3 separate regions of the Homo sapiens genome follow, and all the other regions are linked to region 3. Evidence: fine-mapped expression QTL. A gene starts in region 3. Each other region holds a variant in brackets. All regions are shown on one strand. Distances are between the middles of the regions.

Region 1 (10,279 bases), 20 kb after region 3:
TCTCCAAGACATGCAGAGGAGTGGGGGTGGCCTGTCAGGGGCTGAAAAGAAAAGCCAGTGCTGTACCTGGGGGGTTGTCTCACTCCTGTCCCCACAATCCCTGATACTCCGGAGTGATCTGTCCTTTCAGACACCCACTGTGAGGTCCCAATATCGGGGTTTATCCTTTCCTCAGTCCCAGCCTGTTCAGCTCTCCAACCAAGTTTTGGGGGCCCCTCTAATGGGGGGGATGGCCCCAGTTGCTTAGGCCTCTGAGGTCAACCCCTTTACATCACAGCCCTCTCCCCAAATAAGAAGCATGAGGTGAGCTGGAGGACCCTCCCTGGGAGGAGGGTGTTCTGGGGGGTGAGCCAGTTTTGGGGTCCCCCTTCAGTCCCTGACCAGGCGGTAAATGTGATGCTGGGCCCCACGCTCGCTGGTGGAGACCTCGAAGACATAGGCGGTGCAGAGCAGCAGTTCCTGGGTGTCTCTGTTTGTCACCACCTGCCAGGAAGGCCAGGACAAGGGACTTATGCTTAGAAGGGAGGGCAGGGACCCCTGTGCCCCCCTGCCAAGCTATCATGGAATACCCAGCAGGCTCTTTTCCATCTCCAGGAAACAGGCCGCCACCATATCATGTTCCCCAGGAGAAAGGGATGCCCAAAAGTCAGTTCCCTGGGCAATGGGGGTTACCCCTCAGCTGAGCGTTGGCAGTTATGGTGTATCACATCTCAGGGTTAATCGGGTTCCCATCACATCACATTCCCTGGGTAAAAGGGGTCCCCATCATGTCACAAGTAAAGGGAGAACCCTCCCTGCAGGTTCCGCGGTCAAGGGGTCTCTGCCTCAGCAGTCCAAAAAGTTAAAGGGGCTCCCACCATATCATGTTCCTTGACAAGCTGAGGATCTGCCTTCGAGTGCCCTCCAGTCAGCTTCACCAGGGAAGGAGGGACCCACCTTATGTGCGAGTGCTGTGGGGCTGGGCGTGGTGGCTCACACCTGTAATCCCAGCACTTTGGGAGGCCTAGGCAGGTGGATCACTTGAGGTCGGAGATCAAGACCAACCTGGCCAACATGGTGAAACCCCATCTCTACTAAAAATACAAAAATTAGCCAGGCGTGGTGGGGCGTGCCTGTAATCCCAGCTACTCGGGAGGCTGAGGCAGGAGAATCACTTGAACCCGGGAGGCAGAGGTTGCAGTGAGCCGAGATCTTGCCACTGCACTCCAGCCTGGGCGACAGAGCGAGACTCCATCTCAAAAAAAAAAAGAGAGAGAGTGCTGTGACATCCCCACCCTGGGTGAAGGGTCCCCTAAACTAAGGGTCAATGGTGGGGTCCCCGCTGCATCAGTTTCCTAGTTAAAAGAGCCTCAGGCTGAGGGCTCACTTTGGAGTCCCTGCTGTGTCAGTTCCTGGGTGAGGAGATCCCCTAGACTGAGGGTCTGTTATAGGTACTGTCCCTCCACACTGGGGGGCCCCACTCCAGCCCAGCCCCAGGCATCACCTGGAGGATGGTGAAGTTTTCCAGGACGCTGTTCATCATGTATCGCTCAGGCAGCTGCCGCAACTTGTGCAAGAAATTCACCAGGTACTCGCACATGGGCGAGCGCAGCAGGCGGTACACAAATCTGCCGTCCTCCAGCTGGGCCCGTTCCGTCTGAACCAAGGGGAAGGGAGTTGGGAAAATGGTGGCTGAGAGACCCACGGGTCACCCCAGGAATTGAGCTCCACCCTGTGCCTCTAAGATGCCACCACACTCACTCTCACTGCCACCTTCCTTTCATCACCCCACCCACAGTGACTGGAGACTGGGCCTGAACCCTCGGAGATCCGAATCAGGATCTCTGAGCCTGCAAATCACAAGCCCCTCAAAGTGATTCTCTGAACCCCCAAAGACCTCTGGACTCCTCTAACCTCCCAGCCCTCAGATACCCTCCAAAGACCCCTCCATGACGTCTTCAAACTCTGACTTCTAAACTTGAGACTTCCCCAAGTCTCCAGCAACTGTAAGTGTGACTTCTGAACCTTCTTGCCCTAAGAACCTCTCCATATCCATAAGACCCTTCTCAATCTCAGTGACTCTAAGTCTCTATACTACACATTACCTGTCAGCCCGCAGAATGATCCCTGCCTGTGACTTCTGAACTGCCCATTAGCTCCCAACGCATGCATTAAACCCTCAAAGAGGCTGGGACCCACTCCCTCCATGCATACTCCCAAATGCCTGAGTCATGATGGCTTCTGGTCCATTCTGCACCCCCAAGTGCTGACCCAGAGCTCCACCCCTCCAGCCTCACCTCCACCTTCTCCACCACCTGCTTGCCAAAAGAGCAGACCTTGGAGGAACAGGTGAGGGTCATGTGTTCCAGGCTCTCATACTGGCTGCTCACTCCGTAGAAGCCACCACTGCTGATGCTGCCACCGGCCCCTGCCTCCTCACCACTTGGGCCCCAGTTCAGGTCCGCCTGGGAGATGGGAAGGCACAGATGAGTCAGAGGGGACATCCCTTATAAACAGTGGGGACTACCAGGCGCAGTGGTTCACACCTGTAATCCCAGTACTTTGGGAGGCCGAGGCGGGCGGATCACCTGAGGTTGGGAGTTCAAGACCAGCCTGACCAACATGGAGAAACCCCATCTCTACTAAAAATACAAAATTAGCCGGGCGTGGTGGTGCATGCTTGTAATCCCAGCTACTGGGACACTGACGCAGGAGAATCACTTGAACCCGGGAGGCAGAGGTTGCGGTGAGCCGAGATCATACCATTGCACTCCAGCCTGAGCAACGAGAGCGAAACTCCATCTTAAAAAAAAAAAAAACACAGTGGGGACTCTGCCCCATAGCCTACCATTACCCCTGCAGTTCCCGGCTTGATTCTTCAGTGTTGTTTTGTTTTTTTGTTGTTTGTTTGTCTTTTTTTTTGGGGGGGGGGGAACAGGGTCTTGCTCCGTCACCCAGGCAATGTGTGGTGGTACAATCACAGCTCACTGCAGCCTCGACCTCCTGAGCTCAAGTGATCCTCCCATCTCAGCCTCCTGAGTAGCTAGGACCACAGGTGCATGCCACCACATCCAGCTAATATTTTGTATTTTTTGTAGAAACAGGGTTTCACCATGTTGCCCAGGCTGGTCTCCAACTCCTGGGCTCAAGCGATCCTCCCACCTTGGCCTCCGAAAGTGCTGGGATTACAGGCATGAGCCACCGCGTCAGGCTTTCAAAGTTCTCCAAGGGCTGGTTTCTGGAGAAGATCCACCGTCCATCAGCGTTGAAGAAGTCTGGGTCCCCAAAACAGTCTTGGCCCTGTCTCCCCAGTAACCAAAGGAGCCCTGGAATTCAATTTCAACCTTTTTTCTTTTCTTTTTTTTTTTTCTGAGATGAAGTCTCGCTCTTGTTGCCCAGTGCAATGCCGCGATCTTGACTCACTGCAACCTCTGCCTCCCGGGTTCAAGCGATTCTCCTGCCTCAGCCTCCCAAGTGGCTGGGATTACAGGCGCACGCCACCATGTCTGGCTAATTTTTGTATTTTTAGTAGAGACAGGGTTTTGTCATGTTGGCCAGGTTGGTCTCAAACTCCTGAACTCAGGTGATCCACCCACCTAGGCCTCCCAAAGTGCTGAGATTACAGGCATGAGCCACTGTGTCCAGCCAATTCAACCTTTTTCCCTTGAAGCCCGCAACTCAAGAGTTCAGCCCCTTCCAAGGGCCTGGTTACTATGGCAGTTACTTCTTAGCAACCAGTTCAAGATGAATACCTCCCTCTAAGCCCCTCTCACTCTGGTTGCTAAGGCAAGTGGCTACTCCCTAGCAACGGGACCTCACGGAGCCTGAGGAGGCCTGACTCCTCCTCAGAGCACTTCCCCCTCGGCCAAATCTGAGAGGTCAGACTCCCTCCATGACCCCAGTGGCCAAGTGTGTGTAGACAGCTGGCCAAGTGTCACTAGGCCAAGTGGGGCCTAAGGAAGCCTAAGAGCTCATCACACCTTTGGTCTGAGTCACCTCCTTGCGAGGCGCACCTCTTCCTCTTCCTAACTTTAGTTGCTAACACTGTGCCAGGTCCGTCTTCTCAGGGGCCCGACTCCATCTCTCACCGTGGCAAAACCAAAGACCTTACCAGCTGCTCCTCTGAACCCCTTCAGCAGCTGGGCTTCCTAAGGGGGTGGCTCTCCAGTCCTGGGACCTGATAAGGCCTGTCTTAAGCCCCAACAATGTCTAAGCCCTCAGCTGCACATCCCCAGAGCAGTTTCAGGCTTCTGCTTCACATGGCAGAAAGCTCCAGAACCGTGAACAGCAAGCTCCAGAACAACAACACTCCCAGCAAGAACAGTAAAGTTCAGGCCCTCAGCAGGCCTTTCCTTCCTTTCCTTCCTTCCTTCCTTCTTTCTTTCCTTCTTTCTTTTCTTTCCTTTCTTTCCTTCTTCCTTTCTTCCTTTCTTTCTTTCGGCAGGGTCTCATTCTGTCACCCAGGCTGGAGGGCAGTGGCACAATCTTGGCTCACTGCAGCCTCCACCTCCCAGGCTTAAGTGATCCTCCTGCCTCAGCCTCCACAGAAGCTAGGACCACAGGTGCGCACCACCACACCCAGCTAATTTTTTTCATTTTTTGTAGAGTTGAGGTCTCACTGTGTTGCCCAGGCTGGTGTCAAACTCTTGAACACAAGCGAAACTCTCGCCTCAGCTTCCCAAAGTGCTGGGAAGATAGGAGTGAACCACCACACCTAGCCAGGCTTTCTTCTCAGAGACTAGATCCCTCCACCACCTTTGTTACTATAAGAACTAGCACCCCCTAAACATCCAGGCAACATTTATTGAGCCCAGGCCAGGCACTGTGGCTCACACTTGTAATCCCAGCACTTTGGGAGGCCAAGGTGGGTGGATCACTTGAGGTCAGGAGTTCGAGACCAGACTGGCCAACATGGTAAAACCCTGTCTCTACTAAAAATACAAAAATTAGGCCAGGTGCAGTGGCTCATGCCTGTAATCCCAGCACTTGGAGAGGCCAAGGTGAGCGGATCACATGAGGTCAGGAGTTCAAGATCAGCCTGGCCAACATGACGAAACTCCGTCTCTACTAAAAATACAAAAATTAGCTGGGCATGGTCGTGCATGCCTGTAATCCCAGCTACTTGGGAGGCTGAGGCTGGAGAATCGCTTGAACCCAGGAGGCAGAGGTTGCAGTGAGCCGAGATCGCACCATTGCACTCCAGCCTGGGCAACAAGAGCAAAATTCCATCTCAAAAAAAAAAAAAAAAAAAACAATAAAAGAAAATAAAACACATTTATTGAACCCCTGTAGTGTTAGTCATCATACTGGACACCAAACCAAGTAGCCCTAAGAAACACGCAAGATGGGCCCTCTTAGTCCCAATCATATAAATAGCAGCTGACACCAGGCGTCTATATAGGAAGTGCTCAATAAATGATTGCTACATAAATACAGGACTTGGACGGGTGCGGTGGCTCACACCTGTAATCCCAGCACTTTGGGAGGCCAAGGTGGGCAGATCATTTGAGGCCAGGAGTTCAAGACCAGCCTGGCCAACATGGTGAAACCCCGTCTGTACTAAATATACAAAAATTAGCCAGATGTGGTGGCGGGTGCCTGTAGTCCAATCTACTGGGGAGGCTGAGGCAGGAGAATCGCTTGAATCCAGGAGGCGGAGGTTGCCGTGAGCCAAGATACAGCCACTGCACTCCAGCCTGGGTGACAGTGAGACTATGTCTCAAAAATAAATAAATAAACAAATAAATGAATACAGGACTTGGCAAAGCCACTCCATGGCTCTTTTCATCACTTCCTCAAAGCCAGACATTCTCTAGCAACAAGGTCTGGTGAAACTGATGCAAAGCATCAGTCCCCTCTTTAGAAACCAGTCTCCACAAGTCCACTGGCTACGGGGAGGGGTCTTTCCTTAGCAGCACGGCTTGGTGCAGTCAGGTGGGGCACAGGGAAGCCTGGAACATGGCAAGCCCATGCCCAGGACCCTATTAGCTACATGGCCAGGTAACTCACCGTATTAGTTACATGTGGCAATGTCTAGTGGGATCCAGGGAGGCCCAGACACCTCCAACCCACCCTGGGGGCTGGCCTCCTCGGTGTTCCTTGTTGCAAAGGGGGCTGACACTCCAAGCCATGAGGACTGACTGGTAAGTCCCAGGCTGACCTGGTAGGGCCCGCGACAGATTCTCTCAGGGCCAGAGGCCTTTGCTGGGACACCACAGGATTTGTGAGCACTTTTGATTTTGCTGTGAGAACTCACCCAGAACTTGACCAGGAAGAAGGCATGGGGGGGGCCACGATCATATAGCTCTCGGAGGCCACCCTTTTTCTCAGGGAATTTGTCGTAGATCTGCCGGACGTCCACACTCTCGAGCGGCGGCGCTCCGGGGCTGGGGCAGTGCTGGCTGATGTGCACGAACAGGTGCCTCTGGTACTGAGGAGGGTTGGCCGTGGGTGAGAAGTCGGAGGTGAGCTGGATCTCCAGCCTGTGCTGCCTGAGCCCACCAAATGCCGTCACCATCCCCACAGCTCTGGCCAGCTGTTCCACACAGTCCACCCAGCACTGGGCCTGACTGCCACCCATCGTCCCCACTCCTGCTTCTGCACCCAGTCCCCTGCAGCCCTGCAGTCCTACAGTCCCCAACTCCCTGCCACAACTCCCCCAACTCCATCCTCACTGCCTCAGCCTCACCTCAGGCCTCCCACCCTCACCCCAGCCTCCAACCTCGCCTCTCCAGTTCATCCCTCATGTGGCTCCAGACCTGCCCCTGACCCTCCCCTGGTCATGGCCCTCCCATAGCTCCCCAGCAGCCCCAGGGCAAAGCTCACACCCCCTAGGCCTGGTCCTATATAGAACAGGTGCTCA[T/C]AAATGGTCAATGGATGGAAGAGTGAATGAATGGGAATCCACAGAGGTCTTGTGGTTGATGTTTTGATTGATGTTTATATGGTGTGGCAGAGACTGCTACGTGTTCACAAATCCTGGTTCCTTTACACAGTGTGAAACTACATTTCCCAGGCCGCTTTGCAGTTAGGTGTGACCACATGACTAAGTTCTGGCCAATGGGATGTGACCAGGCCTGAGAGTCGACACATCCAAGTCAGATTCCTAAAACCTCCTGCACAATCTTGACTCTCTCCCTTCCTCCATCTGCTGGCCAGATGCAGAGACTCCATCAGCAGATTCTGAAGCCTTAGAAAATGGCAGAGCCACAAAATGGAAGGAGCCTGGATCCCCAAATCACTTGAGTCCAAGGCTCCTGCTGAACCTACATTGAAATGTTACATGCAACTTATCTGGCATTCAGTCCCTAAGAGTTAGGAGCTGTTTCTTCTAACAGTCGGCCCACTCCATCCTAGCCCAGGAGAAGCTCAAGCACAGAAATAAAATCTTTTCCAAGTTCCTAGTATGCATCACAAAGCCTAGTGAACAGTAGAAACTCAAACACGTTTGATAAATGAATGAATGATGTCCTGGGGAGCTTTTCTGACCTTCCCAACTTGTCACCCTATGACCTTCCAGTTCCTTTATGCTAGTAGTTCTCAAAGTACGGTCCCCAGACCAGCTGCATCAACGCACCTGGTAGCTTATTAGAAATGCAAATTCTCAAGCCCCACATCACATCTAGCAAATCAGAAAGCAATCTCTGTTTTAAGAAGCCCTTCAGATGATTCTGATACATGCTAAAGTTTTAAAACCATGACTTTATACATTCCCTTCCTGTCACCCTCTATATTTCAAAATCCCTCAGCGACTGTACCAAAATTTCACTCACAGAATCAACTGCATCTGGCGGTTCCACGAAGGCTGAGAACTCTACCAGCTGCAACCGGGCGGTGCCCAGGCCCCGAGCCTGCCAGGCTGGGGGCGATGGGGTAGGTGGGGGCAGGGGTGAGAGGGCTTGGGGGGGCTCGTACCCTAGAGAGAGAGAAGAAAGAACAATACAAATTGCTAACATTTATGGAATATATCAGGTACTGTTGTCTCTTGCCTGCCTCCACTTAGAAGCTGAAAAAGCTAAATACTCACTTTCCCAGCCTCCCTTGCAGTTAGAAGTGGCCATGTGACACAGTCCTAGCCAATGAGACGTTAGGGGAAATCTGCTGGGGGGCTTCTGGGAAGGAGTTTCTTCCTGAATGAAAAAGACAGAACTTTGGGAGGAGAAAGCTTTTGGCCCTGGCCAAGTCCTGCTTGGGAGATTGATATGGTTTGGATATTTGTCCCCTCCAAATCTCATGTTGAAATGTGATCCCCAGCTGGGCACGGTGGCTCACACCTGTAATCCCAGCACTTTGGGAGGCCAACGCAGGTGGATCACAAGGTCAGGAGATTGAGACCGTCCTGGCTAACATGGTGAAACCCTGTCTCTACTAAAAATACAAAATATTAGCTGGGCATGGTGGCACGTGCCTGTAATCCCAGCTACTTAGGAGGCTGAGGCAGGAGAATGGCTTGAACCCAGGAGGCGGGGGTTGCAGTGAGCCGAGATTGCGCCACTGCACTCCAGACTGGGGGACAGAGCGAGACTCTGTCTCAAAAAAAAAAAAAAAAGTGTGATCCCCAAGGTTGGAGGTGGGGCCTGATGGGAAGTGCTTGGGTCATGGGGGTGGATCCCTCATGAATGTCTTGGTGCCTTCCCCATAGTAACAAGTGAATTCTCACTCTTTGAGTTGATGTGAGCTGGCTGTTTAAAGGAGCCTGGCTTCGCTCTCTTGCTCCCTCTCACCATGTGACATAGTGGCTCCCCTTCCCCTTCCACCATGGTCCTAAGCTTCCTGAGGCCCTCACCAGAAGCATAGGCTGGCAACATGCTTCCTGTACAGCCTGCAGAACTGTGAACCAAATAAACCTCTTTTCTTTATAAATCACCCAGTTTCAGGCATTCCTTTACAGCAATGCAAATGGACCAACACAGACATGATCCCTGGAGTTGCAACAGCCATCTTGGGACAATAAGACAGACATGAGAGGAACTACAGAGATTCCAGTCCTGATATTGCTAAGCCCACACGGGAACAGCCCACCTCCAGGCTTTTTGTTGCATGGATTCATAACATGAATGCTTTTACTATTTAAGGCACTTTTAATGTGGGTCTTCTGTTACTTGCAGCCAAAAGTATTCCTAATTGATAAATCTATGGAAACTAAGGGACTCCCTCTTTCACTGATGTGAGTTCTCAGGGCCATATCAGCATGGACTTCCAGAAGCCATCTTTGCTGCCAAGTAGCTGAGTCTGCCTGGGAATGAAGCCACCACAGTGGAAAGCAGATCAAAGTAATGACTGATGCCATCACTTGAGCCGCTGGATCCAGCCACGCCTGAGGCCATAATTCTGAACTGTCAGTTACTGGAACCAATAAATCAATACATTTTTCTTATTATTTTTTATTTTATTTATTTATTTATTTTGAGACAGAGTCTTGCTCTGTCGCCCAGTCTGGAGTGCAACGGTGCCACCTCGGCTCACTGCAACCTCTGCCTCCCAGGTTCAAGTGATTCTCCTGCCTCAGCCTCCCGAGTAGCTGGGATTACAGGCAAGTGCTACTGCTACCACGCCTGGCTAATTTTTGTATTTTTTAGTAGAGGTTGGGGGGGGTGGTTTCGCCATGTTGGCCAGGTTGGTCTCGAACTCCTGACCTCAGGTGATCCACCCGCCTAGGCCTCCCAAAGTGCTGGGATTACAGCTGTGAGCCACCGCACCTGCCTCTTCTTTTTTAAAATGTTGCTTCAGCTGGCTTGATTTGGATTTCTATCACTTGCAGCTGAAAGAATCTTGACTAACATACCTCCCCCATGTCTCATAAGCTAGCAAGTGGCAGAACACAAACCCAGTGTGTGGCTGCAAAGACCAAAATCTCCTAACCATCACCAGTTCCACCACTCAGCTCTCCAGCCCCTCCCGGCTCCCCCGCCCCCAACACACACACCCTGCCTCAAAGCTGGGCTTCAGTAAGAATGTATCCCCTAATTGGCCGGGTGCGGTGGCTCACACCTGTAATCCCAGCACTTTGGAAAGCCGAGGCAGGCGGATCACAATATCAAAAGATCGAGACCATCCTGGTCAACATGGTGAAACCCGATCTCTACTAAAAATACAAAAATTAGCCCGGCATGGTGGCGGGCACCTGTAATCCCAGCCACTCGGGAGGCTGAGGCAGGAGAATCACTTGAACCCAGGAGGCGGAGGTTGCAGTGAGCCGAGATCACGCCACTGCACTCCAGCCTGGCGACAGAGGGAGACTCCATCTCAAAACAAAACAAAATAAAACAAAAAAAACAATGTATCCCTCAATTGATGGAAGGTT
Region 2 (10,279 bases), 540 kb before region 3:
TCTGCCTTTTCTGACAGTGAGAAATATGACTTCATTTTCTTAATTTCCTTATCGGTCAATTCTCCTCTATGTTAGCCATCTCTCATCTCCACAGCTGTCCCCTCCTTCCACCTCCCCTGTGCCCTCTGCACCCAGCTTGGGCTGACTTCCCGAGCTACAGCCCCCCATCCTATTAGCCTAGGGGACTTACGTTTCCTACTTGGGTGCCCCCCACTGTGCTGAGCTGCTCACATCAGTAAATGCCTCCTTCACCCCACTAAGGCCCTGACACCCCACTTCTGGGCCACTGTGCCCCCAACACCCCAAGCTGGCCTTGCCTGCCCCACCTCAAACCTTAGAACTTTATCGTTCAGGAAGACAAATTTAGGGAAGGGGAAGAATGCCGATTTCTATTTAATGTATTTGACCATATCAATGTTTTCTTTTCTGGCCTCTGAAGTTTGAGTCACGGTCATGCCCATGTTATAAAATAATTTTCCAATGCTTACTTCTCACTCGTTATGGTTTCCTATCTGATACTGAAGACTTTGATCCATCTGGAGTTTATTCAGTGGGTTATTTTTATTTTTTTATTCCTTCCTTCACTTGGATTGAATGGGTTTTCTGTATTCCCGCTTTTTCATATTTACTTTTTTAATCAAAGTTATATATGTACACAGTAAAGTCACACAGTGCTACGTGTTCAGTTTAACCTTCCCCATGCTGTCCCATTGGTAACTGATCTCTGAATTAGTTATAGCAATGTGAAACACTGGGACGGACCCACACTAAAATATCAGTGGTTTGAACAATTGTTTTTTTTTTTTTTTTTTTGAGACGGAGTCTCACTCTTTCATCCGGGCTGGAATGCAGTGGTGCGATCACTACAACCTCTGCCTCCCGGGTTCAAGCGATTCTCCTGCCTCAGTCTCCGGGGTAGGTGGGATTACAGGCACCTGCCACTATGCCCAGCTAATTTTTTGTATTTTTAGTAGACACAGGGTTTCACCATGTTGGCCAGGCTGGTCTGGAACTCCTGATCTCGTGATTTGCCGGCCTCGGCCTCCCAAAGTGCTGAGTGGCCGTGAGCCACCGTGCCTGGCCTAATTGATTTTTTTTTTTTTTTTTTTTACAGAGAGATGGGGTCTCACTATGTTGCCCAGTAGTCTCAAACTCCTGGGTTCAAGCAACCCTCTTGCCTTGGCCTCCCAAAGCACTGGGATTACAGGTGTGAGCCACTGCACCTGGCCCTACAGTTGATTTTTGTTTCTATTCATGTAAAGTCTAACTAGTAGAAAGACAGAGGGTCAAGGACTCAGGCTGATAGCAGCTCTGTCATTTTCTTTTTTTTTTCTTCTTCTTCTTCTATTTTTTTTGGTGAGATGGAGATTTACTCTTGTTGCCCAGGCTGGAGTGCAATGGCGCGATCTCGGCTCACCGCATCCTCCGCCTCCCGGGTTCAAGCGATTCTCCTGCCTCAGCCTCCCAAGTAGCTGGGATTACAGGCATGTGTCACCACGCCCGGCTAATTTTGTATTTTTAGTAGAGACGGGGTTTCACCGTGTTGCCCAGGCTGATCTCGAACTCCTGACCTCAGGTAATCCTCCCGCCTCGGCTTCCCAAAGTGCTGGGATTACAGGCGTGAGCCACTGCGCCCGGCCAGCTTTGCCATTTTCACACGTGGCCTCCAAGGTCTCTCTGGATGTGGGACGCAGGCTCCCAGGTGAACCGCAATGATCCCCACCTCTTGGTATCTATGCCATGTGCATTCCTTTCCCACATTACACTAGGGTTGGCCTTTGTGATGGATATCACAGGGCAGAAGTGGTGGGATGGGCCAGGCAGTCGCTCACACCTGTAATCCCAGCACTTTAGGAGGCTGAGGCAGGAGGATCACTTGAGCCCAAGAGGTCAAGACCAGCCTGAGGCCCCCATCTCTACAAAAAATTTAAAAATTAGGCCGGGCGCAGTGGCTCATGCCTGTAATCCCAGCACTCTGGGAGGCAGAGGTGGGCGGATCACCTGAGGTCGGGAGTTCGAGACCAGCCTGACCAACATGGAGAAACTCTGTCTCTACTAAAAAAATACAAAATTAGCCGGGCGTAGTGGGATGTAATCCCAGCTACTTGGGAGGCTGAGGCAGGAGAATCGCTTAAACCCGGGAGGTGGAGGTTGTGGTGAGTTGAGATCGCACCATTGCACTCCAGCCTGGGCAATAAGAGCAAAACTCCGTCTCAAAAAATTAAAAAAAAATTTTAATTGGCTGGGTGTGGTGGCGTGTGCCCATGGTCCCAGCTACTTGGCAGGCTGAGGCAGGAGTATCACTTGAGCCTAGGAAGTTGAGGCTCCAGTGAGCCATGACCGCACCACTGCACTCCAGCCTTGATGACAGAGGGGGACCCTGTCTCAAGAAAAAAAAAAAAAAGGAATGGTGGGATATGACATCTGAGACTAGGCTACAAAGACTGCGGCTTCCATCGTGGTCTCTCTCTCACTCTCTCTTTCATCACTTGCTCTGGGAGAAGCTAGTGGCCAAGACACGAGGAATGCCCAAGCAGCCCATGCAGACATCAACAGCCAGCGAGGAACTAAGGCCTCCAGCCAACAGCCCTGTGAGTGAGCTCGGATAGGCCAGGCTCAGTGGCTCACACCTGTAATACCAGCATTTTGGGAGGCCAAAGCAAGTGGATAACTTGAAGCCAGGTGTTCGAGAACCAGCCTGGCCAACATGGTGAAATCCCGTCTCTACTTAAAAATACAAAAAATTAGCTGGGTGTGGTGGCACGTGCCTGTAATCCCAGCTACTCGGGAGGCTGACGCAGGAGAATCACTTAAACCTGGGAGGCAAAGGTTTCAGTGAGTGGAGACTGTGCCACTGCACTCCAGCCTGGGCAACAGAGTGAGACTCTGAGACTCTGTCTCGAGAGAAAAAAAAAAAGAGGGTTCTCCAGCCTCTGTCGAGCCTTCACATGACTGCAGTCCTGGCTGACAAGCTTGACTGAAACCTGAACCAGGAACACCCAGCCGAGCTGCTTGGGATTCCTGACCCTCCAGAAACTATGTGAGAAGGCCAGGCACCATGGCTGACACCTGTAATCCCAGAACTTTGGGAGGCCGAGGCAGGCAGACCACTTGAGGTCAGGAGTTCAGGGCCATCTCTACTAAAAATACAAAAATTGGGAGGCCGAGGCAGGTGGATCACGAGGTCAGGAGATCGAGACCATCCTGGCTAACACGGTGAAACCCCATCTCTACTAAAAATACAAAAAATTAGCCAGGTGTGGCAGTGGGTGCCTGTGGTCCCAGCTACTTGGGAGGCTGAGGCAGGAAAATGGCGTGAACCCAGGAGACAGAGCTTGCAGTGAGCAGAGATCATGCCACTGCACTCCAGCCTGGTGACAGAGCGAGACTCCGTCTCAAAAAAAAAAAAAAAATTAGCCAGGTGTGGTGGTAGGTGCCTGTAATCCCAGCTACTAAAAAAAAAAGAGAGAGAGAGAAGGGAAAAAAAAAACTATGTGATACAATAAATATTTGTTGTTTAAGCTGTGAGGAATTAACTCAGGGGTAATTTGTTAGACAGCAATAGATGACTACTACACTGCTATCTGCATCCAACCGGCAGGTAGAGAAAAGAGAGAGGGCACATTAGAAGTTCCCTAATGGGTGTGGCTGGAAGTGAGGCAGGGCTCTTCTCATTGGCCAGAACCACTCACATAACCCCAGTGACTTGCAAGGGGTGCTGGGAGATATAATCCCCCCAGGGGCACTGTCACACAATAACAAATATATATTTGGTCTCTGTCCCCCCAGTTTCTGGGACAGAGCTTTGAAACCCCTTATAATTTCCCCAGTGTTAGGGATGCCAGCAGCATCTTTTGTTCTAATATTTGATCTTTGACCCCAGTTCCCGACAAAGGGCTCCTAAATCCCTTGGAATTTCCTGAGTAATGGGAGCATCATTTTTTCTTTTTTCTTTTTATTTTCTTCTTCCCTTTTTTTTTTTTTTTTTTTTTTTTTTTTTTGTTTGAGACAGCGTCTTGCTCTGTCACCAGGCTGGAGTGCAGTGGTGCAATCTCCACACACTGCAACCTCTGCCTCCTGGGTTCAAGCAAGTCTCCTGCTTCAGCCTCCCAAGTAGCTGGGACTACAGGTGCCCGCCACCATGCCTGGCTAATTTTTGTATTTTTAGTAGAGACGGGGGTTTCACCATGTTGGCAAGGTTGGTCTGGAACTCCTGACTTCAGGTGATCTACCCCCTTGGCCTCCCAAAGTGCTGGGATTACAGGCGTGAGCCACCACACCCAGCTGAGAGCACCTTTTTTTCTAATGAGGTGACTCTTGGTGGGCTCCTGATGGGGGCTGATCACCAGCAAGACTCAGTCAATATTAGAAGCATGGAACCTGTAGCCCCATCCCACTCCACATCTTTCCGGAAGAAGAGGGAACTGGAGCTGGAATTACTAATCTATCCTACTTATGCGCTGAAGTCTCCATAAAAGTCCCTAAAGTATGGGGGTGGGAGAGGTTCCTTGTAGCGTCCAGCCCTACAGGGCCTTGTGGGTTTTCTCTTCGTGTGTGGAGATGAGAGATTGTAGAAAGAAAGACATGAAACTAAGAGAGAGTATGAAAGACAGCTGGGCCCAGGGGGCCACTACCACCAGTGCATGGAGTCCATTAGTGGCCTCGAATGCCTGGACTGCTGCTATTTATTGTATACAAGGCAAGGGGGCAGGGTAAGGAGTGTGAGTCATCTCAAATGATTAATAAGGTCAAGCAAGTCACGTGTCCATGTGACAGGGGGCCTTTCCCTTTTTGGTAGACGAAGCAGAGAGGGAAGACAGCATACGGTCAGCATTTTTTCTATGTACTTATCAGAGAGATCAAAGACTTTAATATTTTCACTATTTCTGCTACTGCTATCTCCCAGGAACTTAAAAGAGGAACCAGGTGTACAGGCGGAACATGAAAGTGGACAAGGATCATGACCACTGAAGCACAGTACCACAGGGAGATGTTTAAGCCTCCGGATGACTGTGGGCAGGCCTGGCTAATGTCCGGCCTCCCACAAGAGGCTGGTGAGGCAGAGTGTTCTCTAACTCCCCCAAGGAAGGGGAAACTCCCTTTCCCGGTCTGCTAAGTAACGGGTGCCTTCCCAGGCACTGGTGCTACCACTAGACCAAGGCGTCCTTAAGCCCTTATCTGGGCGTGGCGGAGGACTTTCACTCTTGTCTTCTGGTCACATCTCACCATGTCCCTTCAGCTCCTGACTCTGTATCGCCTGGTTTTTCCTCAGTTATAATAATAAAACAGAGATTAATACTAAAACTAATAATTGATAATATCCATATATAATCATCTCTATATCCTATTGCTAGTATAACTTTTCTTATTCTAAGTATTTTCTTTATTATATTGAAACAGTATGTGCCTTCAATCTCTTGCCTCAGCACCTGGGTGGCTCTCTGCCCACAGTTCCGGGCGGGGAAGCACCCCAACTCCATGGAGACGCCCAACCTGGAAGCTCCCC[C/G]AAACCCATCCTTTGCTCCCGTGCTCGGGAGGCGTTCAGATGTTGCCCTTTGCACCTCTTTATCTGACAGGTTTTATTTAATTATATGATAAACTGATAAATGTGTTTTCCTTAGTTCTGTGAGGCATTGTAGCAAATTTCTGAGCCTAAGGAGGGAGTCATGGGAACCCCCATTACTAGCAAGTCAGAAGCTCGGGTGAGACCACGTGGACTTGTGATTGGCATCTCCCAAGGGGCAGCCTCGTGGGACTGAGCCTTTCACCTGTGGGATCCGATGCTATCTCCAGGTAGATAATGTCAGAGTTGGATTGAATTGTGGGACACCCAGCTTGGGTAGGAGAATTTGTCAGCGTGGGAAAAACCCCACACACCTGGTCACAGAAGTGTTGAGTGTGAGCCTGAGAAAAACAGGTGTTTTTTTCTAGATAAGATCCATGGAAGGGGAACACAATTTTTTTTTTTTTTTGAGACAGCTCTCTGTCGCCTAGGCTGGAGTGCAGTGGCGCGATCTCGACTCACTGCAAGCTCCGCCTCTCGGGTTCACGCCATTCTCCTGCCCCAGCCTCCCTCCTCCCGAGTAGCGGGGACTACAGGCGCCCACCACCACGCCCGGCTAATTTTTTGTATTTTTAGTAGAGACGGGCTTTCACCGTGTTAGCCAGGATGGTCTCGATCTCCTGACCCTGTGATCCTCCCGCCTCGGCCTCCCAAAGTGCTGGGATTACAGGCGTGAGCCACCGCGCCCGGCCAGGGAGCCTTTAATGAGTTTAAAAGTTGTTGCATTCTTTCCTTTGCTAAATTTGGTTTCACGGGGAACACATTTCCTGGCCCCTGGGATTTGGGTGTGTATCCTGGTCTGTGACGCAGGCCAGGGGCTGGCATGTGACGCGAACCGGGGGCCACTTCCCGAAGCAGGTCAGCGAGAGGCACTCTGGAGCTGTTGCCCAGCCACTAGTGACGTCATGGGCTTTCAGTCATTCCTATTGGGTGCTCTTAGTGCTCTATCCTCAAACTCCGCAACCGGCCCTTGGAAAAGACTCTGAACTGAGGCTTCTGGAAAAAAGAATCCGAGCTTCCACGTCATTTCAGAAATACCCCCCTCACCTTATTTATTTATTTATTTATTTATTTATTTATTTATTTATTTATTTATTTATTTATTGAAACAAGGTCTGACTCTGTCGCCCAGGATGGAGGGCAGTGGCGCGATCTCTGCTCACTGCAACCTGGAACTCCTGGACTCAAGCGATCCCCCACCTCAGCCTCCCGAGTATCTGGGATTACAGGTACTCGCTACCACGCTCAGCTAATTTTTAAATTTTTTGTAGAAATGGGGTTTTGCCATGTTGCCCAGGCTGGTCTCGAGCTTCTGAGCTCAAGCGATCTGCCCGCCTCGTTCTCCCAAAGGGCTAGGATTACAGGCGTGAGCCACCGCGCCTGGCCCCCAAATTCTTTTATGTTTATAAATTTAAACTGTACGCCGGGCGTGGTGGCTCACGCCTGTAATCCTAGCACTTTGGGAGTCCAAGGCAGGTGGATCACCTGAGGTCAGGAGTTCAAGACCAGCTGACCAACATGGTGAAACCCTGTCTCTACTAAAAAATACAAAAAATTAGCTGGGCGTGGTGGCACACGCCTGGAATCCCAGCTACTCGGGAGGCTGAGGCAGGAGAATGGCATGAACCCAGGAGGCGGAGGTTGCAGTGAGCCAAGATCGCACCACTGCACTCCAGCCTGGGCGACAGAGCGAGACTCCGTCTCAAAATAATAATAATAATCATCATCATCATCATCGTCATCATCATCGTCATCATCAGCCAAGGGAAAACGTGGATGGGGCAGAGTCCAGGAGACACCAGGCGTGAGCTTTCAGATGTCCTCCCCCAGTGGAGTTCTAGACAGTGCTCAATTCTCCCGGTAATGACGTGTGCCAAAACGCATGCAGTATTGCCAACCAGGGAGTCTCACCCCAGATCTTAGGATGAAAAAAAAATTTTTTTTTTTTTTTTGAGTCTTGCTTTGTCACCCAGGCTGAAATGCAGTGTCATGATTTCGGCTCACTGCAGACTCAACCTCCCAGGTTCAAGCTATTCTCATGCCTCACGAGTAGCTGGGATTACAAGGGTACGCCATCACACCTGGCTAATTTTTTAATTTTTATTTATTTATGTATTTATTTATTTTTGAGACGAAGTCTTACTCTGTCACCCAGGCTGGAGTGCAGCGGCGTGATCTCGGCTCATTGCAGCTTCCGCCTCCTGGGTTCAAGTGATTCTCCTGCTCCAGCCTCCCAAGTAGCTGCAACTACAGGCGCCCGCCACTCTGCCTGGCTAATTTTTGGTTTTTGTTTTTTGTTTTTTTTGAGACGGAGTCTCGCCCTGTTGCCCAGGCTGGAGAGCAATGGCGCAGTCTCGGCTCACTGCAACCTCTGCCTCCTGGGTTCAAGCGATTCTCCTGCCTCAGCCTCCTGGGTAGCTGGGATTATAGGCACCTGCCACCATGCCGGGCTACTTTTTGTATTTTTAGTAGAGATGGGGTTTCATGATGTTGGCCAGGCTGTTCTCAAACTCTTGGACCTTGTGATCCGCCTGCCTCGGCCTCCCAAAGTTCTAGGATTACAGGCGTGAGCCACCACCATGCTGGGCCTAATTTTTGTATTTTTAGTAGAGACGGGGTTTTGCCATGTTGCCCAGGCTAGTCCCGAACTCCTGGGCTCAAGGAATCTGCCCGCCTCGGCCTCTCAAAGTGCTGGGATTACATTCGTGAGGCACCGTGCGCAGTCCGGGGGACAAAATTTTAAACAAGTGTTGGTCATGTAAGCATGGCAGACTGCACGTGTGACTGACCTCAGATACTCCAGCTGCCTCCTCCTGAGGGGTGGACTAGAACAGGGACTGGTAACCAGGGGTTAAAGGATCGGGACCTGACGCCTAAATCTTTTGAATTTACATGCAAAATATGGGCATATAACATGAGCAGTGGTTCAGGATGTGGGCAATGAAGAGAGAGAGCCTGAGTTCCCCCACCTCTTACTACTGGAGTAACCAGGGGCAGGAGACTTCTGAATTTCAGTATTCTTATCTGCACAAGTGGAAACGAGAGAAATACTGTAGGGCAGTGCCTTCTAGCGGGCTTAGAGGAAGCCTCTGGACATGGTAGCTATTACTTATTTGCTTAGTCTTTAGCATTCTGCACGTTTTGTTTGTTTGTTTGAGATGGAGTCTCTCTCTGTCACCCAGGCTAGAGTGCAGTGGTGCGATCTCAGCTCACTGCTACGTCCACCTCCCGGGTTCAAGTGATTCTCATGCCTCAGCCTCCCAAGTAGCTGGAATTACAGGCATCATCATGCCTGGCTAATTTTTGTATTTTTAGTAGAGACGGGGTTTCATCATGTCGGCCAGGCTGGTCTTGAACTCCTGACCTCAGGTGATCCGCCCACCTCAGCCTCCCAAAGTGCTGGGATTTACAGTTGTGAGCCACCCCGCCCAGCCAGATGTTCAAATTTTGATATGGATTAAATTCAGTTACTAGATCACTTTTTTTTTTTTTTTTTGAGACAGGCCCTTACTGTGTTGCCCAGGCTGGAGTGTGGTGGCACGACCCCATGGCTCACTGCAACCTCGACCTCGTGCTCAAGCAATCCTCCCACCTCAGCCTTCTCAGTAGTTGGGACTGCAGGCAGGTGCCACCATACCCAGCTAAGTTTTTGTTGTTGTTGTTGTAGAGACCAGGTGCATGCTGTTAAAACTAACTACCCGAGACTGGGTAATTTATAAAGAAAAGAGGTTTAATTGACTCACAGTTCCACAGGGCTGGGGAGTCCTCAGGAGACTTACAATCATAGCAAAAGGGGAAGGGGAAGCAAGGCACGTCTTATATAGTGGCAGGAGGGAGAAAGAGCTAGAGGAGGGAACCACCACAGTTTCAAACCATCAGATCTTGTGCGAACTCACTCATGACTACGAGAACAGCATGGGGGAAACTGCCCCCACGATCCAGTTACCTCCCACCATGTCCCTCCCTGGACCCGCTGAGATTATAATTCATAATGAGATTTCAGTGGGGACACAGAGCCAAACCATATCAGTTGCCAAGGCTGATCTTAAACTCCTGGGCTCCAGCAATCCTCCTGCCTCAGCCTCCCAAAATGCTGGGATTATAGGCATGAGCTACCGTGCCCAGCTGCATCGTCATCTTAATACTATTGTCTTCCAGTCTATAAACTTGGGATGTCTTTCCATTTATGTCTGTTACGAATTTCTTTCTTTCTTTTGTGTATTGTCAGTCTTTCACCATTGAGTAGGATGTTTGCTGTGGGTTTTTCATAAATGCCTAAGCCAGTGTTTCTGTTTTGTTTTGTTTTCTTCTTTTTTGAGATGGAGTCTAACTCAGGCTGGAGTGCAGTGGTGTCATCTTGGCTCACTGCAAACTCTGCCTCCTGGGATCAAGCGAATCTCTCGCCTCAGCCTCTCAAATAGCTGGGATTACAGACACCTGCCACCAAGCCTGGCTAATTTTTGTGTTTTTAGTGGAGGCAGGGTTTCCCCATGTTGGCCAGGCCGGACTCGAACCCCTGACCTCAAGTGATCTGTCTGCCTCGGTCTCCCAAAAAGCTGGGAATACACATGTGAGCCACCGCGCCCTGCCTAAGCCAGTGTTTCTATTTTTTTTTTTTTTTTTTTTTTTGAGATGGAGTCTCACTCTGTCGCCCAGGCTGGAGTGCAATGGCACAATCTCGGCTCACTGCAACCTGTGCCTCCGGGGTTCAAGTGA
Region 3 (10,279 bases):
TTCCAAAAAATTGGAGAGGAGGGAACACTTCCTCATTCATCCTATAAGGCCAACATTGCCCTAATACCAGAGCCATACAAAGACATTATAAGAAAAGAACACTACAGACCTATATTCATTATGAACTTTGATGCAAAAATCCTCAAAAAAAATACTACCAAACCTAATTCAGCAGCATATTAAAAGGATTATATACCATGACCAAGTGGGATTTATTCCTGGAATGCAAGGATGGTTCTGCATACAAAAATCAATCAATATAATATACCACATTAACAAAATGAAAGAAAAATAATGATTCTCTCAACTGATGCAGAAAAAACATTTGACAAAACTCAATACCCTTTCATGATAAAAAAAAAAAAAAAAACTCAACAATCTAGGAGTTAAAGGAAAATACGGCTGGGCATGGTGACTCATGCCTGTAATCCCAACACTTTGGGAGGCCTGATGACCACTTGAACCCAGGAGTTCAAGACCAGCCTGGGGCCAGGTGCAGTGGCTCACATCTGTAATCCCAGCACTTTGGGAGGCCAAGGCGGGTGGATCACCTGAGGTCAGGAGTTCAAGACCAGCCTGGCTAACATGGTGAAACCTGATCTCTACTAAAAATACAAAAATTAGTCAGATGTGGTGGTGTGCACCTGTAGTCCCAGCTACTTGGGAGGCTAAGGCTGGAGAATCGCTTGAACCTGGGAGGCAGAGGTTGCAGTGAGCCAAGATCATACCACTGCACTCCAGCCTGGGTGACAGAGCAAGACTCCATCTCAAAAACAAACAAACAAACAAACAAACAAAATTTTTAATTACCTGGGTGTGTTGATGTACTTCTGTAGTCCTAGCTACTCATGAGGCTGAGATGGGAGAATCACTTCAGCCCAGGAGGTCAACGCTACAGTGAGCCATGATGACACCACTACACTCCAGCCTGGGTCACAAAGTGACACCATGTCTCAGCAAAAAAAAAAAAAGGAAAATATCCCAACATAATAGCCATATACGAAAAACTCACAGCAAATGTCATACTTAATGATAAAAGACTGTAAGCTTTTCCTCTAAGATTAGAAACAAGCGTAGAATGTCTAATTTTGCCACTTTTATTCAACATAGTACTGGAAGTCCTAGCCAGAGAAATTAGGCAAAAATATAAATAAATAAAAGGAAACCAAACTAGAAAGATTATATGATCTTATACGTAGAAAATCCTAAAATTTTCACCAAAAAAATTTTTGAGCTAATAAATGAATTCAGCAAAGTAGCAGGATACAAAGTCAACAATCAAAACTCAGTTGCATTTTTATACACTAACAATGAACAATCTGAAAAGAAAATTATGAAAACAATTCCATTTGTAATAGCATCAGAAAGAATAAAATACTTAAGAATTAACTTGGCTGGGCACGGTGGCTCAAGCCTGTAATCCCAGCACTTTGGGAGGCCAAAGTGGGCAGATCACCTGAGGTCAGGAGTTCGAGACCAGCCTGACGAACATGGAGAAAACCCGTTTCCATTACCAAGTTACCCAGGCATGGTGGCACATGCCTGTAATCCCAGCTACTCAGGAGGCTGAGGCAGGAGAATCACTTGAACCTGGGAGGCAGAGGTTGCAGTGAGCCGAGATTGCACCATTGCACTCCAACCTGGGCAACAAGAGTGAAACTCCATCTCAAAAAAAAAAAAAAAAAGAATTAACCAAGAAGGTGAAAGACATGTACAAAGAAAACTACAAAACATTGCTGAAAAAAATTAAAGGAGACATAAATAAATGGAAAAATATCCCATGTTCATGGGTTGGAAGACAACACTGTTAAGATGTCAGTATTACCCAAAGCAATCTACAGAATTAGTAGCTTTTTTTTTTTTTTTTTTTTTTTTTTTTTTTTTTTTTTTTTTTTTGCAGAAATAGAAAAACACGTCCTAAAACTAACATGAAATCTCAAGGGACCCTGAACAGCCAAAATAATCTTGAAAAAGAAGAAAAACGCTGGTGTACTCACATTTCCTGATTTCAAAACATATTACAAAGCTATAGTAATCAAAATAGTGTGTTACTCACATAAAGATACAGACCAAGGGAACAGAATAGAGGGCCCAGAAACAATGTATGGAAAAATGATTTTTTACAAGGGTGCCAAGACTACTCAATGAGTAAAGGACAGTCTTTTCAACAAATGGTGCTGGGAAAACTGGATTATGTACAGGCAAAAGAGTAAAGATGGACTCTTACCTAACACCACATACAAATACACAAAATAAATCAAAGACCTAAATGTAACACTTAAAATTATAAAATTCTTAGAATAAAACATACGACAAAAGCTTCATGATAGTGGATCTGCAATGAATTCTTGGATATGATACCAAAGGCAAAAGCAACAAAAGAAGAAACAAACAGGATTTCATTAAAATGTTTTAAATTTGTGCATCAAGAGACACTATCAAAGGGGTGAAAAGATAACCCACAGAATGGGAGGAAATATCTGAAAATCATATGTATAATAAGAGATTAATATTCAGAATATATAGAGAACTCGTAAAACTCAACAACAAAGAAACAAACAACACAATTCAAAAATGGGCAAAAGACTTAAATAGACATTTCTCCAAGGAAGATATACCAATCTCCAAGAAGTACATGAAAAGATGTTCAACGTCACTAATCATTAAGGAAATGCAAATGAAAACTACAATGAGATAATACCTCGCATCCATTAGGATGGCTAATATAAAAAGGCAGAAAATAAGAAGTGTTGGTGAGGATGTGGAGAAATTGGAATCCTTGTGCCTTGCTGGTCAGAATGTAAAATGGTGCAACCACCATGGAAAACACTATGGTGGTTCCTCAAAAACTTAAAAATAGAATTACCATATGATCCAGCAATTCCACTTCTGGGTATACACCCAAAATAAGTGAAAACCAAGCCTCCAGTGGCTCAGCCTGTAATCCCAGCTCTTTGAAAGGCTGAGGTGGAAGGATTGCTTGAGCCCAGAAGTTCGAGGCTGTAGTGAGAGGTGATCATGCCACTGGACTCCAGCCTGGGAGACAGAGAGAGACCCTGTCTCTTAAAAATAATAATAATAGGCTGGGCACGGGGGTTCACACCTGTAATCTCAGCACTTTAGGAAGCTGAGGCGGGTGGATCGGCTGAGGTCAGGAGCTCGAGACCAGCCAGGCCAACACAGTGAAACCCCGTTTCTACTAAAAATACAAAAAATTAGCTGGGGGTGGTGGCGCACGCCTATAGTCCCAGCTACTTGGGAGGCTGAGGCAGGAGAATCGCTTGAACCTGGGAAGCAGAGGTTGCAGTGAGCTGAGATCGTGCCACTGCACTCCAGCCTGGGTGACAGAGTGGGACTCCATCTCAAATAAATAAATAAATAAAAAATAATAGATTCATGTTTCTTAAACACATTCTAGAACAGTTGTCCTTAAAAGCAAGCTTTACGGAAGGGAGAGAACTGAGTTTTGGCCAGCTGGCCACTTCCAACATCCATAAAGCCCCTTGAGCCCCAGGCGGACTCCTCTTCCCATATGGGTGCAACCCTCCATGGTGCCCCTACACCGTCATCCCAAGCAACTCCTAGGCTCATGCCCTGTGGGGAGTGCTCAGGATCCCCCAGAAATGCCCATTCCCCTCACATTACCTCCTTCCCTGGAACTATAACCTCCAGAAAAGGAAAATAAGGAGCTGGTGTCCCATTTCTGCAAAAAGCAGAAAATAACTGCCCTAACAGACCAGTGATGGGGCTAGACCCGGGTTTCTGCCACTCGGGCACTTGACACTGATGGCTTTCCCCAAAGGCAGGGACTGATGGCCGAATCCTGTCAAGGAATTGGCTCAAACTCGGACTGGATGAGTGAGGAGAGCCGAAGACAGTTTCCTCTGTCCTACGTGGGGGGTAAAGGAGGGACCCCTTTGATCCCTCAGCTCCACAGAGCCCAGGGCAACCAGGAGGCTCCCAGCCAGTCACCTGTCACCCGTCAGTGGAGCCCAGTGGGCCCGGGCCTCGAAAATGGCGCCCAGCCCCACACACCCCAGATGTGGGAACATTTTAGGGCTCCCTGGGCCGTGACCCTCACCCTAGCCCCAAGGCTTCTGCCAGGTTCTTCAGTCCAGCCAGTCGGACAAAAATGAGGGTGAAGAAGCCCCAGCTGAGAAGCCTAGCAATCTCCTCAGGCCCCTTCAGGCGTCGACAGATCGGTTTGGGCGACACCCCTCGATCTGCCTGGCGCGCGGCCTTTCCCGCCGATTCTCTGCGCATGCGCCGCCGCGCCCCCTCACTCTTTCCCTACAGCTGTAGCAAACACTGTAACCACTTCGCCCTCCCCAACTCCCTGCTCTCTCCCCACACGCACGCACGTGTGCACATCCTCTGACTGCTCACGCGCCACTCCCTTCCCCACCGCACCCCACCCCGACACCCACGATGCCACGCTTCAGGCGGGGCTCTAAGACAAGGCCTTTCTCTGGCACATGCACTTTGCTTCCACTTCATGTAAGGAAGAAGAGGGTAGGAAGTGGGAGAATCGTCTCATTCATTCCTTCTAGCCTTCAAACCTTTCGCATTTACTTAAAGATCGCCTACTAGAAACCAAACCTTAAATATGCGTCCAACAAGGCAGACAGGGACGTTGCCTTAAGAGAGCTCAGAAGCCTACTAGGGCTGCAGACAAGAATTAAAAACTCAAAGATTTACTTAGGTCATCCGTTCTCATACTTTCCGGTCTCTTAAGAATTATTAAGGACTCCAATAATTTATGAGTTACATTTATATGGGTTGTATGTTTATGTGAGTTGTATCTATCAATATTAAAATAAATTTCTAAAATAGTCATTGTTTAAAAATTCATTATGTGTCAAAATAACATTTTTATTTAAAATAACTATAATTTCTACTCCAAAAGAAATTTTGGCGCTGGGCGCGGTGGCTGACGCCTGTAATCCCAGCACTTTGGGAGGCCAAGGCGGGTGGATCACGAGGTCAGGAGTTCGAGACTAGCTTGGCCAACATGATGAAACCCCGTCTCTACTAAAAGTCAAAAAAAAAAAAAATTAGCCGGGCGTGGTGGCACACACCTGTAATCCCAGCTACTCGGGAGCCTGAGGCAGGAGAATCGTTGGAACCCAGGAGGCAGAGGTTGCAATGAGCCGAGATTTTGCCACTGCACTCCAGCCTAGACAACAGAGCAAGACTCCGTCTCAAAAAAAAAAAGGAAAAAAAAGAAAAAATTTGGGGAGAAGAATGGCATCATTTTACATTTTTGCAAATCTCTCTAATGTCTGGCTTCATAGAAGACAGCTGGATTCTCATATCTGCTTCTGCACTGAGTGTGTCAAAATAGCTCATGTCTTGTAGCTTCTGGCAAACATCACTATATTCAAAGAGGAAATGAAAGTGAAAGGCAAATAATATCTTAGTAGTATTATGAAAATAATGTTCACCTCATGGACCCCCAAAAGTGTTTCAAGAGCCCCCAGGAGTCCCTGAGCCACACTTTGAGAATGAAAGGCTTAAATTGTTATGATTGAACAAAGAGATGAAGAGGAAATTTTGGGGGTGCTGTAAGAATTCATCACAATCTTTGGGAATCATTCAATCTTTCAACACGTATTTATCGAGAGTCTACTAAATGCTAGGAACTGGGAATAGTGTAGAGAACAAAACAGACCCCATTCCTGCCCTCGTTTTGCTTCACACAACAAGAAAACAGATATATGATGAATCTCAAATAATTACATGATTATAAATTGTATTAAGTGCTATGACAGGCCGGGCATGGTGGCTCACGCCTGTAATCCCAGCACTTTGGGAGGCCAAGGTGGGCGGATCACATGAGGCCAGGAGTTCAAGACCAGCCTGGCCAACATGGTGAAACCCCATCTCTACTAAAAATACAAAAACGAGCCAGGTGTGGTGGTGCACGCCTGTAATCCCAGCTACTCGGGTGGCTGAGGCACAAGAATCACTTAAAACCATGAGGCAGAAGTTGCAGTAAGCCAAGATCACACTACTACACTCCAGCCTGGGTGATGGGGTAAGACCCTGTCTCAAGGAAAAAAAAAAAAGTGCTGCGACAGAAAAGGGCCACAGACCTATTTATTTCTATCGAATTTTTTTTTTTTTTGAGACAATCTCACTTTGTCACCCAGGCTGAAGTGCAGTGGCATAATCTCGGCTCACTGCAACCTCTGCCTCCCGGGTTCAAGCAATTCTCCCTGCCTCAGCCTTCCGAGTAGCTGGGGTTGCAGGTGCCTGCCATTACGCCTGGTTAATTTTCATATTTTTAGTAGAGTCAGGGTTTAGTAGAGTCAGCCTGCCATGTTGGCCAGGCTGGTCTTGAACTCCTGACCTCAGGTGATCCGCCCGCCTCAGCCTCCCAAAGTGCTGGGATTACAGGCGTGAGCCACTGCGCCCGGCCCATAGACCTAATTTAGAAGGAGGATTTCTCTAAGGAAATAACACTGGAGTTGAGGCTTAAAGGATTATTTGCTAGGTGAAAAATGTGTGTGAACATCTCAAGCCTTGAGGCTGTGCAAAGGCCCTGAGGCAGGGCAAACTGTGTGTTCAAGGCACCAGGAAAAGTCTCAGTCGGTCAATAAATATTTATTGAATGATGTGCCCCACACTGTCCTAGACCCCTGGGATATAGTTATGAAAAAGATTTTACGTTCCAGTTGCACAAAGAAAGTAAATGCCTAAATAGAAAGAATTTCAGAGAGTAAGAGTGCTGATAGGGAGTTACTTTAGACAGGGTAGTCAAGAAGGACTCTTGGGGAAAGTGATATTTCAGCAGAGAGCTGAAGGAAGGGAGCCTTGTGAACAGCATAGGGAAGAACATTCCAGGCAAAGAAAATGGCAACAGCAAAAGCCTTGAGGCAAGAAGTACACTTGATGGGTTCTGGAAATGGCAAAGAGTCTGATATGAATGGATCCCAGTGATTGAGGAAAGGGTAGCAACAGATCAGATCAGAGCAGTGGCAGGGGCCAGAGTATTATTTGGAGGCCCTTATAGGTCATGGTCGGAATTTTTTTCTTTTTTTTCTGGGTGAGATGAAAGCTATTTGAGGGTTCTGAGTCAAGGAGTGACTTTCATTTTAATGGCAGGCTCCCCCTGGCTTCTGGGCAGAGAATAGCATGTATGGGTGTATTCCTCTGTTTTCACACTGCTGTAAAGAACTGCTCAAGACTGGGTAATTTACGAAGAAAAGAGGTTTAATTGACTCACAGTTCAGCTTGGCTGGGGAGGCCTCAGGAAACTTACAATCATGGCAGAAGGCAAAGGGGAAAAAAGGCACCTTCTTCACAAGCAAAGGAGGGAAGAGCCCCTTATAAAACCATCAGATCTCATGAGAACTCACTCACTATCACAAAAACAGCCTGGGGAAACCACCCCCATGATTCAGTTACCTCCACCTGGTCTCTCCTTTGACACATGGGGATTATGAAGATTATAATTCAAGATGAGATTTTGGGTGGGGACACAGCCAAATCATAGCAATGGGCTAAAGATAGAAGCAGAGAGCCCAGTGAGGAGGAAATCTCTAGTCCAGGCAAGTGATGGTGTTGATTAGATCTGGGTAATAGCAATGGAGATGGTGAAAAGTGGTCAAATTCTGGATCTATTTCAAGAATAGAGCCGACATGATGTGTTGATGGATTGTGTGGTGGTTTTAAAATACGTCTGCAAATTCTTCAACACTTTGAAAGATAAAGTCTATTTCCCCAATCTTTGAGTGCAGGCTCTCCTTAGCAACTGGCTTCCAATGAACATAAGTAATGGTGGGGAACTTCAGGACTAGGTCATAAAAAGCATTGCTGTTTCTTACTTGCCCATTCCCTTCAACTGATTTCTGTAAAGGAAGCCAGTCACCATACGGTGAGGACACTCAAGCAATCTGTGAAGAGATCCATATAAGAGAAGAGCTGAAATTTCCTGCCAGCAACCAGCACCAGGTGAGTGAACCATGGTGAAGTGGATCCTCCAGCCGTAGTTAAATCTCCAGATGACTACAGCCCCAGCCAACATCTTGACTGCAACCTCATAAAACACTGTGAGCAGAAATCATCCAACTAAGCTGCTCCCAGATTCCTGACCCACAAAAACTACAGTAGGTAAGAAATGTTTATTGTGTTTTTTTTTTGAGATAGAGTCCTGCTCTGTTGCCCAGGCTGCAGTGCAGTGGTGCGATCTCAGCTCACCACAACCTCCGCCTCCCAGGTTCAAGCAATTCTCCTGCCTCAGCCTCCCGAGTAGCTGGGACTACAGGTGGGACCACATCCAGCTAATTTTTGTATTTTTAGTAGAGACGGGGTTTCACTATGTTGGTCAGGCTGGTCTCGAACTCCTGACCTCGTAATCTGCCTGCCTCAGCCTCCCAAAGTGCTGGGATTACAGTGAGCCACCGCTCCTGGCCTAAGAAATGTTTATTGTTTTAAACTGCTAAATTTGGGGTAATTTGTTACAGAGCATTAGAAAACTAATGGTGATTAGGTTTGGGGTCTGAGAGAAAGAGAGGAATCAAGAATGACTCAGCCGGGAGCGGTGGCTTGCACCTGTAGTCCCAGCACTTTGCAAGGGCGAGGTGGGAGGATTGCTTGAGGCTAGGAGTTTGATAGTAGGATACTAGCCTGGGCAACATAGCAAGGCCTTGTCTTTTTTTTTTTTTTTTTTTTTTTTTGAGACAGTCTAGTCTCGCTCTGTCGCCCAGGCTGGAGTGCAGTGGTGCGATCTCCACTCACTGCAAGCTCTGCCTCCCAGGTTCACACCATTCTCCTGCCTCAGCCTCCCGAATAGCTGGGACTACAGGCGCCCGCCACTACGCCTGGCTAATTTTTTGTATTTTTAGTAGAGACGGGGGTTTCACTGTGTTAGCCAGGATGGTCTCGATCTCCTGAACTCGTGATCCGCCCGCCTCGGCCTCCCAAAGTGCTGGGATTACAGGCGTGAGCCACCGTGCCCAGCCCGGCCTTGTCTCTTAAAGGAAAGAAAAGTGTTTTTTAATAGCCAGGTGTGGTGGCACGCATCTGTTGTCCCAGCTACTCAGGAGGCTGAGTGGGAAGATCACTTGAGCCCAGGAGATTGAGGCTGCAATGAGTCATGATCGTGCCAGTGCCCTCCCACTTGTGTGACAGAGCAAGACCTCAAAAAAAAAAAAAAGACTCCAAAACTTTGGGCCTGAAGAATTGGAAGATGGAGTGACAATTTACTGAAAAGGAAAGTACTGGAGTGTGCAGGAGGTGGGAGGGAATCAATAGTTTCGTTTTGGGCGTGTTAAGTTTGAGATGTCAATTATACAGCCAAAGGCAGAGGTTAAGTTGTCCTTCACTGCAAGGAGACCTGGGAAATGAATCTTCCTGAGTCCGCAGTTCAGGGGAAAGTTTGAGGCTAGGCATATAAATTGGTAAGTCAACAGTATTGTAGATTGCGATGAACACTATGGCACTGCATGATATCATCTCGTGAGTGAGTGTAGCTAGAAAGGGCTAGGACTCCCCAAATTTTAGAAGCTAGAAAAAGGACGATCCAATGAAGATTGAGGAGAACCAGCCAGTGAAGAAGGAAGGAGGAAAAGCAAGAGGGAATTTGCCAGTAAAGGAGGAGGGGATCAGGTGAATTCAATGGGTAGAATTGCTGTTCTCAAACGTTAGTGCACATCAGTCACCAGGAAGGCTTGTTAAAACACAGACTGCCAGGCCAGGTGCAGTGGCTTGCCTGTAATCCCAGGACTTTGGGAGGCCAAGGTGGGCAGATCACCTGAGGTCAGGAGTTCAAGACCAGCCTGGCCAACATGGTGAAACCCTGTCTCTACTAAAAATACAAAAATTAGCTGGGCATGATGGTGGGTGTCTGTAATCCCAGCTACTCAGGAGGCTGAGGCGGGAGAATCGCTTGAACCCGGGAAGCAGAGGTTGCAGTGAGCCGAGGTTGTGCCATTGCACTCCAGCCTGGGCAATAGAGTGAGACAAAAAAAAAACACAAAAAAAAAAACAGATTGCCAGGCCCGCCCCCAGAGTTTCTGATTGAGCAGGTATATTCGCTTCCCGAGACTGCTGTATAAATTACTACAAACTTGGTGGCTTAAAGCAACAAAAATATATTATCTCACAGTTCTGGATGCCAAAAGTCCGAAATTAAGGTGTCAGCACGCCACTTCCTTCAAAGGCTCAGAGGACAATCCTTCCTTGACTCTTCAGTTTCTGGTAGCTCCTGGTGTTCCACTTTTTTTTCCCCTGTAGGGTCTTGCTCTGTCATCCAGGCTGGAGTGCAGTGGTGCAA

Alleles and levels. Positions count from the first base shown, and alleles are read on the strand shown. Sizes are in standard deviations (SD) of each study's normalised expression. Not every link is listed here.
In carriers of allele T in region 1, the expression in neutrophils of the gene that starts at base 4,225 in region 3 tends to be higher than with C alone (moderate effect, 0.50 SD a copy in BLUEPRINT).

Evidence for each region. PIP is the estimated chance that this variant, and not a neighbour inherited with it, causes the effect. A credible set is the group of variants that fine-mapping cannot tell apart.
Region 1: its variant is the best candidate, but not a certain one, in a credible set for the expression of SLC6A16 in neutrophils (BLUEPRINT, PIP 0.60).
Region 2: its variant is the best candidate, but not a certain one, in a credible set for the expression of SLC6A16 in minor salivary gland (GTEx, PIP 0.77).

The regions. Positions count from the first base shown.
Region 1 is chr19:49,340,955-49,351,233 of GRCh38, forward strand. TEAD2 (TEA domain transcription factor 2) reads right to left here. Exons shown (of 13, transcript NM_001256660.2): 9 at 7,749-7,891; 10 at 6,236-6,409; 11 at 2,277-2,444; 12 at 1,484-1,636; 13 at 1-483. The coding sequence ends at 370. Among named protein-coding and RNA genes, the nearest start is that of CD37, 11 kb to the left of the region's middle. RefSeq lists an enhancer at 2,135-2,234. The variant T/C (reference allele first, on the strand shown) is at 6,842.
Region 2 is chr19:48,776,166-48,786,444 of GRCh38, forward strand. No RefSeq gene overlaps it. Among named protein-coding and RNA genes, the nearest start is that of FGF21, 26 kb to the left of the region's middle. RefSeq lists a cis regulatory region at 4,623-5,263. The variant C/G (reference allele first, on the strand shown) is at 5,507.
Region 3 is chr19:49,320,967-49,331,245 of GRCh38, forward strand. SLC6A16 (solute carrier family 6 member 16) reads right to left here and starts at 4,225. Exons shown (of 12, transcript NM_014037.3): 1 at 4,082-4,225. RefSeq lists an enhancer at 5,389-5,538 and a silencer at 6,332-6,483.